2 separate regions of the Homo sapiens genome follow, and region 2 is linked to region 1. The links come from fine-mapping of genetic effects on gene expression. A gene starts in region 1. The other region holds a variant in brackets. All regions are shown on one strand. Distances are between the middles of the regions. Region 1 holds the start of SERP2 (stress associated endoplasmic reticulum protein family member 2). Region 2 has its middle 29 kb from the start of SERP2.

Region 1 (4,396 bases):
TTCCATATCCTCTCTGAGCACGCCACCCTCTAGGAACCTGATGTTCTGCTCTCCAGAACTCAACAAACCCTATCCTTTGGGCTTTTATACAGGCTTCATTGCATATGTCTGATTGATTACATCATTGGTCACTGGTGATCAACTTAACTTTCAGCCCCTCTCCTCTCTGTGGAGGTCTGGGGGGACAGGGTGGGACTAAAAGTCCCAACCCTCTAATCCTGCCTTGATCTTTCTGGTGACCAGTCCCCATCCTGAAGCTATCTAGGGTCTCCAAGTCACCAACCATCTCATTAGCATACAAAAGGTAAGATATTTTCATCACTCTGGAGAGTCCAAGGAATTTAAGAGTTTTAGGTCAGGAAACAGGGACTACAATCAAATATATATTTCACAATATCACACGCAGATATACCTGCACAAGTACACACTGATCTATGTACAGGGATATTCACTGAAGCATTGTTGGCAACCACAAAAAAAGAAAAACTGGAAATAATCATCCATGGTTACATCAGTTCAATATATTACTGTATAATCATACTATGAGACATAACACAACTACAAGAAAGAGGTCATATATAAGTGATATGATAATGTTGATATATTAAGTTAGAAGAGCACGTGGCAGAACAGTTTGCATACTACTATTCCGTTTTTTTTTAGAAGGGAATATACAAATAGTCTTGTATATACTGGAAGGGCAACCCAGGAACCGTGGGAACTTTTTGGGGAGGGTGGCAAGGAAAGAGAGACCTTTACTTTTCATTTTCTATCCTATTTCTGTTTGACTATTTACTGTGTAGATGTAGTCTACTCATAATTAAAACAAACTAATTTAAAATGCCGGAAAAGTGAAGCATAGCAGGAAAAAGGAGTCAACAGTAAAGAAAAATTTTCCCCAAAAGGGGCTTCTCTCAGTTAAGAACACTTCTGAACTGTACTCACTGAATGTGAAGACCCAAAGAGAAAACAGTCTCTGTCTGTGTCTTTTCCTTAATGTCGCTCAGAGCCAGACCTCTACTCACCTGGTGAGGACCTGGGTCAGTCTCCTGGTATTTGGACATGATCTGAGAGGAGTGAGTCAGGTAAAGGAACCTTCTGGACCACAGACAACAGCCAGGCTCAGCAGGGATCACTGAGGTAGGAATCCCCCCACCCAAACCCCTAAAAAAGAGCCAACAGTTATTAAAAACATGGGACTAGAGTGGGGCAGACTGGGTTTATGGTCCTGTTACAACAGTGGTGATGCTAACAGTTAAAAGACCATAGAAGCTTGTTTCAAATTAATTGGCCTGTAGAGTAGGAAAAAAAAAAAATGACTCTACTAATGATCCTAGGCAATTCTGTCTTCTAGGTTACAGCAAGCAGCCCCCAGAATGGCCTTTATTGAAGCCTGAGTGACAAGAAGCCTGTAGCGGGGTGAGGGGGACCCGCTTGGAAAAAGGCCCCAAAAGAGGAGCTCTTCCTAACTCTCCAATGACATGGGAAAATTTTACTCACACAAAATTCCCTGGAAACCCAGCCACCTCCCGCTCCAAGAGAAGGCCTAGAGATGCAGTGGCCAGAGACAGCCTCAGGCCTTCTTCCCCATGCTGGGGGTGCTGCTGCTTGCCTTCACCCCGACCCGGTATCCCCACTTCCCGCTGCCCCAGATCTCCCAGGCTGAATGTCCCCTCTTCGCCTCCACTCTTCTGAGCTTCTAAGAGCTAACTCCAAGTGAGGAACTGAACCCCTTCCACCCCTACCTCCCCAGGCAATCTGTAGAGCTCTTGAGCCCTAATACCAGTGTCTGGGAGGCGCGTAAACGCTTCCATTTTTATCCTTCCACTGCAGAAAATGCCCAGTTTAGTCTGGGAGACACTCAGACCCCTCGGGACAAGGGTGGCTAGAGAGAGGTCCAAGCTGCCCTGGGTGGGTGGGGAGTCAAGGCAGGCCAAAGCTTCAGATTTAGACAGTAACCACCAAATCCGACCTGGGCTGCAGGTCCAAGGCCTCTTCCTCTTTCCTGCATGCTCCGCTCTGCCGCTGGCCCATCTTCCAATGCAACCCCTACAACTACCAAAGCAAAAAGGCCTGTCCCAACTCCATCCTCACGGCCCGATCCCCAACCCTCAGGGGATGCCGCTTCGTGTCTCCTCTTTATTTTACAACGCGGCCCTCCTTGCAGCCCTCACGAAAAGTTCTGCAGTGGGGTCCCCCAGCGTGGGGCCCTTCTCGAGACCCTTAAAGAGAAGGCTCGTTTGGTGGACCATACCCGGGCAGCGCGGGCCCGGGCCTGGACTGGTTCTACTTGTGTTCTGAGGTCCCTGACCACCGCCTTGGGTCCAGCCCTCGTCCAGGGGGCGGCGGTGCAGGGGAGACCGCGCGGCCCGGCCTGAAGCGCGGCCGCCCTCATCCCTTCCCCGGGGCTGGGGTGGGTCACCGGCCGACAAACACAGGAGGGGCCGCGTCCCCGTCCCCGACGCGCTCACAAACGCCGTGGTCGCCCGAACCTTCGGCCCCGCAGCATTCGGCTACAGGACCGCGACACTGCAGGGCCCCGGCTCTGCGCGCTGCGCTCCGGCCGCTCGGCGCGGGAGGACGTGCGGTCGCGCCTGCCTCGGTGGCCGCGCGGGGTAGGTGGCTGCGGGGACCGGAAGGATGGCGAGGAAGTCGGAAAGGGTTTCCTGAGATGAGAGATTACTTCCGTCCGGGCTGCGGCCTCTCTCTGGAGTCGGCTAGCCGGGGCTCGGGGAGCGGGGTGCGCAGGGCTCGGGGCCACGCCTTGCCACCTGCAGCGCCCGGGTGGGCCGCGGGGGCCTCGGCGGGACGCGCTCGGCCCTGTCGCAGGAGCTAACGCAGGGGGAATCCTTGCAGGTGGGAGCATTTCAGAGCGCACAAGCCATGGTGGCCAAACAGCGGATCCGGATGGCTAACGAGAAGCACAGCAAAAACATCACCCAGAGGGGGAACGTAGCCAAAACCCTGGTAAGGCGGGGTCGGCGCCGGCCAGGCAGAGCCCTGCAGCCCGGCGGGGTGGGGCGGAAGGTGGGGGCGGGGCCGGGCGGGTAGCGGCGCAGGGTCCGGCCTCCCGGCTCCCGGCCCGCCCCTTCTGCGGGGTCCTGCAGAGTGGGGGCTGAGAGCTGGGTTCAGGGCGGCGCGGTCTGCTTGGCGTCCTCGTGGGCGGAGAGGGCCCTGGTTGGTCGTGGCCCCTCTGGGAGTGGCTACCTGGGCTACCAGGGAGGCGCAGAGGAGCCCTCCTCCCCGACCCGCACCCCCTGTCCCCCTGCCCGGGAGACAGCTGGGCCTTGTCCCGGAGAAAGACGGAAAGCCTCATCCTTAGGGGCCAGTTAAGTCAACTGCATGACACAGAGCCTGGAACCTAGTATGTTCTAGAACGTTGCATGACACAGAGCCTGGAACCTAGTATGTTCTAGAACGTTTGTTGAATGAATGAATGAATCAATGGCTAAATGGAGGCCACTTGTCATCTCCTCCCGGACTCCACCTGTCTTCCCTCCCCAACAGACTTGCACCAGGATCAAGTTTTCTTTCCAGCCCCTTTGTGACGGTTTCACTGGAGGTGTGGAAAGAGCTCAAAATGGGGAGTGAGATTTGGACCCACATTCCCTCCAGCCTCTTTTTTCTCTTTTACCTCTCTTCCAGCGAGACCTCCCTCAGCCCCTAGGCTAAAGTCTAAGGGCAGCATTCCTATTCTTTCCACTTGGTGAATTCAGACTCATTCTCATGGTATAACTTTAGAGACCAGTTTATTGTCAGGCATTCGGTGTCCCTAGAACTGTAAATTCAAGCTTTGCAACTGGACTTTTAAGTAAAACCTGTGCCTTACACTCAGGAGTTTCTTTTAGCAAAGCAGATTATCATCAACAGAAAATGCGAGGCCTGTGACTTTGGACATTCAGAGGCATGAGTCGCATGGGTAGTTTGGCGAAGTTGGTCTCCAAGTATATGAGCAAAGGCGCCTGGGATCTGTTACCCCGTACAGTTAAGTGGAAATCCAGCTGAAGCCTGGAGTTTGGCTGGGAAAGCTTGCAGATTTGATGAATCAATTCCTTTTAGCCAAAGAAACTATATTGGTTTGATTAACTAAGCAAAAAGCTAGATCTGTAATCATCACACCAGAATTCTTGCAAAACCAAGCAGTATTACGGCAGAGAAACTCTAGGACCAAACTCAACTCTACTCAGAGCTTTATACACAAGTCTAAGCATAACTCAACTCTACTCAGAGCTTTATACACAAGACCTAAGTAATCCTTAAAATTCTCTCATTTAGGAATTATATCACTCAGTTGTGATTAGGCAGCAAAATGCCAAGATGCCATCAAATTGGAACCATTTTGTCACATTGATTTATGTTTTCCCTATTTTTACTGAGGAAAAAAAAATGGCTGCCC
Region 2 (4,396 bases), 29 kb before region 1:
CTTCCAATGACATCTCTGAGCTCATTTTGTCTCCTTCCCTCATGCATTCTACTAGAGTCACATTAGCCTCCTTCCTAGTCTTTGAACCCAACAAGCGCATTCCTACTCAGGACCTTTGCGCTTTCCATTCTCTCTGCCTGGAACGCCCTTCCCAGGATACCTGTGGTTCACACCCCTATTTTCTTCAAGTCTTGGTTCACATGTCGTCTTCCCGGGGATGCCCTCCCTGACACCAGTTACATAAAATTGAATCCCCTTCATAACTCCATCCTTGACTTATTTTTCCCAATAGCATTTATCATCAATTAGTATACTACATAATTTTCAATTTTATTTTGTTTAGTATGTATCTATCCCTACCAGAATATACGCTCATTAAGGCCAGGAATTTTTAACATTTTTTTCACACCTGAATAATTCCCAACTGTTAAAGTGAACAATGTTCAGGACACAGCAGATGTTCAAAAGATATTTGCTGAATGAATAAGTACCTATGAAAAATGTGCTCATCTCCATCTTTATCAGACAAAGATTGGCCTCAGGCTTAGAATTGTTGGAAGGCATCAGTATCTAGCTACAGTTGAAAATTATGTTTGTCAAAGGATAATTTTTAAAAGATAAAATCATAACTTTCATACAAATATAAAATGAACATGTGTTAATGATTTTATTTAACTTATTAATGAGTGAACAAGTAAGATGTTACAACCAGTTCAAAGGAGAATTCAAGTAACACACACATAAAGAGGCAGATAAGGAATGCTGAGATGAATTTACCAATAGAGGCAAAACTGATCAATATCAACAGAGCAGTAAGCAATTCCATTCCATCAGCTAAAACTCATTGGCTCTCCTATTGGTAAGATGTGTATTGTGTAAGTCTATTTACACATAAGTTTTCTATAACTTAAAGTCTTATAAATAGCTCAAGAACAATTAAAAGAACAAATAACCCAGAAGGGTGCAATAGACAAGATACCCAGTAACCTTATTTTTTGCCCATTTTAATGTCTTTCATAATTTTTCCTGGCACGTTGTTTTATGTTTATTGTATTTACTTTTATAGATAATATGCTATTTATAGAAAATGGCACTGGCTTTTCACTTGTATTAGTGATATAGTTGTCTTTAAAGAGATTTGTTTGCATTTTTAGAAGAATGCCAATTAAAAAATATATATCTAGAAAGTGTAGGACTGTGTCCTTCAACCTTTAATATGCATACACACCATCTGAGTATCTTGTTTAAATGCAGATTCTGTTGAGGGGAGGTCGGGGTGGAGCCTGAGACTCCGCATTTGTGGTAAGCTCCCAGATGCTGCCCATGAGGGTGGTCCAAAGAGCACGCTTTAAGTAGAAAGTGTATAAATGGCACTGGGATAAGGCAAAAATATATATATTTTGACTAAAGTTTGAGGAAATTGCAATAGATTATTGAGTAGGATTGTCTGAAAGGTTTAAGCAGAGGAGTGACAGGATCAAATTTGTTCTTTGGGATCATTTTTTTGCCCTCAGAGGGAGGGCTGCAAAGAAAGGCGGTTGAGGGACACCTCTTTTATCCTCTGGAACAAAAACTATGGGGCCAGAACCCAGACAGAAGTACCACCTCAGCAACTGGTGATGTCTTATTACTGTTATTGTTGTTATTGTTGTTCAAGAATCTACTAGTTTCTTCATAAGCTTCCCAGAGCATGGACATTGAATTTTCTGTTGCATAAGTTTCTTCTGTAACAGTTGGTGGAAAACAGGTCTTCACTCCCTGAATCAGAGGTGCAAAGAACAGCCTTCTCTACTGTGTCAATAGACCCTATAAGTGCAAAAGGCATTGACTCAATTCTTGGCAAATGTGAACCTAATAGCACTCTTTTCCATTATAAAAATACGAACATTGAAGAGTTTAGTTGCTTACTTGAGTGATTTCTCCTCCAATTATCCAAATGTGTCTCTTAAGAAATCATCTTTTGTAGAACTCTGCAGTATCTATGTACATCCTTTTCCTTCCATAGTTTAGAACATTCCTAAGGGAAGCAATTGGAAGGCAACAACAAGTAGCAACACACTTGCAAATATGTTCCTACACGACTACTAATCCAAAATGTCGTAAGTGCCTGACATGTCAAGTATTGGAGGGAAAGCTATATCAGACAGAATAAGATGGCTGGTTAAATGCAATGCATTTTATAAGTGCTTTATTGAGGTATAATTTAGATACCATAAAATTCGCCTATTTCAGGTGTGGAGTTTGATTAATTTTAGTAAACTAAGCCATCTGTATAAGCATCACCCCTATCCAGGTTGAGCACATTTTCTACACCCCAGAAAACTTCCTCATACCTGTTTGCAGTTAATCCCCATACTCAACCTCAAGCTACAGGTTTGCCTTTTCATTTTTTTTTTTTTCTGAGACAGAGTCTCACTCTGTCACCCAGGCTGGAGTGCATTGGCGTGATCTCGGCTCGTTGCAATCTCCACCTCCCGGGTTCAAGCGATTCTCCC[G/A]CCTCAGCCTCCCAAGTAGCTGGGATTACAGGCACCTGCCACCACACCTGGCTAATTTTTGTATTTTTAGTAGAGACGGGGTTTCACCATCTTGGCCAGGCTGATCTTGAACTCCTGACCTCGTAATCGACCTTGGCCTCCCAAAGTGCTCGGATTACAGGCATGAGCCACCACACCCAGCCAACAGGTTTGCCTTTTCTAGAAACTTCATGTAAATTGAATCACACGATGTGCAGTCATTTGTATCTGACTTCTTTCACTTTGTATAATGTTTCTGAGTTTTATCTATGTTTTTGCATGTTTTAATATTTCATTCCTTTTCCTTGCTGGGTAGTATTCCACAGTATGAATATGCCACATTTTGTTTGTCATCAGTTGACACTTTGGGGTTATTATTGAATAAAGCTGCTATAAGCATTTATATACAAGTCTTTGTGTGGCTATGTACTTTCATGTCTTTTTACTAGATTCCTAGAAGTAGGACTGCCGGGTTCTACAGTAAATTTAAGTTTTTTAAAACTACAAAACTGCTTTCCAAAGAAACTACCATCTTTACATTCTTACCAACAACATATGAGAGCTCCAGTGTCTCCATATTCTCTCCAACACTTGGTATTGACCATCTTTTTGATTATAGACATTCTAGTGGATATGTACTGGTATCTCACTGTGGCTTTGTATGCATTTCCCTAATGATTAATGACAAGCATCTATTCATGTGTTTTTGTTTTTCCATTCATGTATCTTCTTTGGTAAATATGTTTAAATTGTTTACACATTTTGCTTATTATTGACTTGTCATATTATTGAGTCATAAGCATTCTTTATGTATTTTAGATACAAGTCCGTTATCAAAGATAAATGATTTGCAAATCTTTTCTCCCAGTCTGTGGCTTGTCTTTCCATTCTCCTAACAATGTCATTAAAAGAGCAGAAGTTCATAATTTTGATAAAGGCTAACATCTATTTTTTCTTTTATGCAACTCACATCTTAGAAACTTTGGCCCAACCTAAGCTCACAAAGATTTTTCTACTGATTTTGTTGAGTAGATTCATAGCTTTTGTTCTTACATGCAGATCTATGGTATATTTTGAGTTATATTTTACATATGGTGTGAGGTAAAAATCTAAACACTTTATTATTGTTGCTGTTGTTTGTTTGTGTATACAGACATCCAATTGTTCCTGCACCATTTTTGAAAAGTCTCTTCTTTCCCCCATTGTTAAAAAGGCTACCCTTTTGTTCTTTGCACCCTTTTCAAAATTCGATTAACCACAAATGTGAGAATTTATTTCCGGACTCTAGTCTTTACCATTGACCTATATGTCTATCCTTTTGTATCTAATTATTGTGGCTTTAAAACAACTTTTGAAATCAGATAGTGTAAGTCCTCCAACTTTGTTCTTCTTTTTCCAAAATTATTTTGGCAATTTTAGGTCCTTTGCATTTCCATACAAGTTTTAGAAAGAACTAGTCCTCCTTCTTCTTGTTTGAGCACTATAGTTTTATCTTATGGAAACAATTTTGTATTTCTTTCATTTTTGCTTTTCTGAGAGGTCACAATTTAATCTAATTTGAAGAAAGTTTGTCAATAAAGTATATCAGGTTGTGCCTGGGGCATAATAGGTACTAAAGAAATATTAGCTCTCCCCTCCTTCCACAACACAGCCTACATTTTTACTAGAAGTTGGAAGTCAGAACAACATAGGTTTAAATTCTTCCTCTGTCACTTACCAAGTGGGTGTTCTCATGCAAATTATGTAACCTCACTGAGCTTCATTTCTACATCTGTAAAATGGAGATAATAATATTGACTCCATGGGGTTTTATAACTAGTAGGTGTAATATAAATGTGTCAGGTACATAAAAAGGCCTAATAAACATTTTATGAATGAATGAA

The links. PIP is the estimated chance that this variant, and not a neighbour inherited with it, causes the effect.
Region 2: its variant is the best candidate, but not a certain one, in a credible set for the expression of SERP2 in whole blood (INTERVAL, PIP 0.80).

The regions. Positions count from the first base shown.
Region 1 is chr13:44,371,143-44,375,538 of GRCh38, forward strand. SERP2 (stress associated endoplasmic reticulum protein family member 2) reads left to right here and starts at 2,682. Exons shown (of 3, transcript NM_001010897.3): 1 at 2,682-2,967. The coding sequence starts at 2,884. It overlaps LOC105370297 (a long non-coding RNA gene), which reads right to left and starts at 2,424. Exons shown (of 2, transcript XR_001749858.3): 1 at 2,255-2,424; 2 at 1-2,055.
Region 2 is chr13:44,342,434-44,346,829 of GRCh38, forward strand. No RefSeq gene overlaps it. Among named protein-coding and RNA genes, the nearest start is that of SERP2, 29 kb to the right of the region's middle. The variant G/A (reference allele first, on the strand shown) is at 2,496.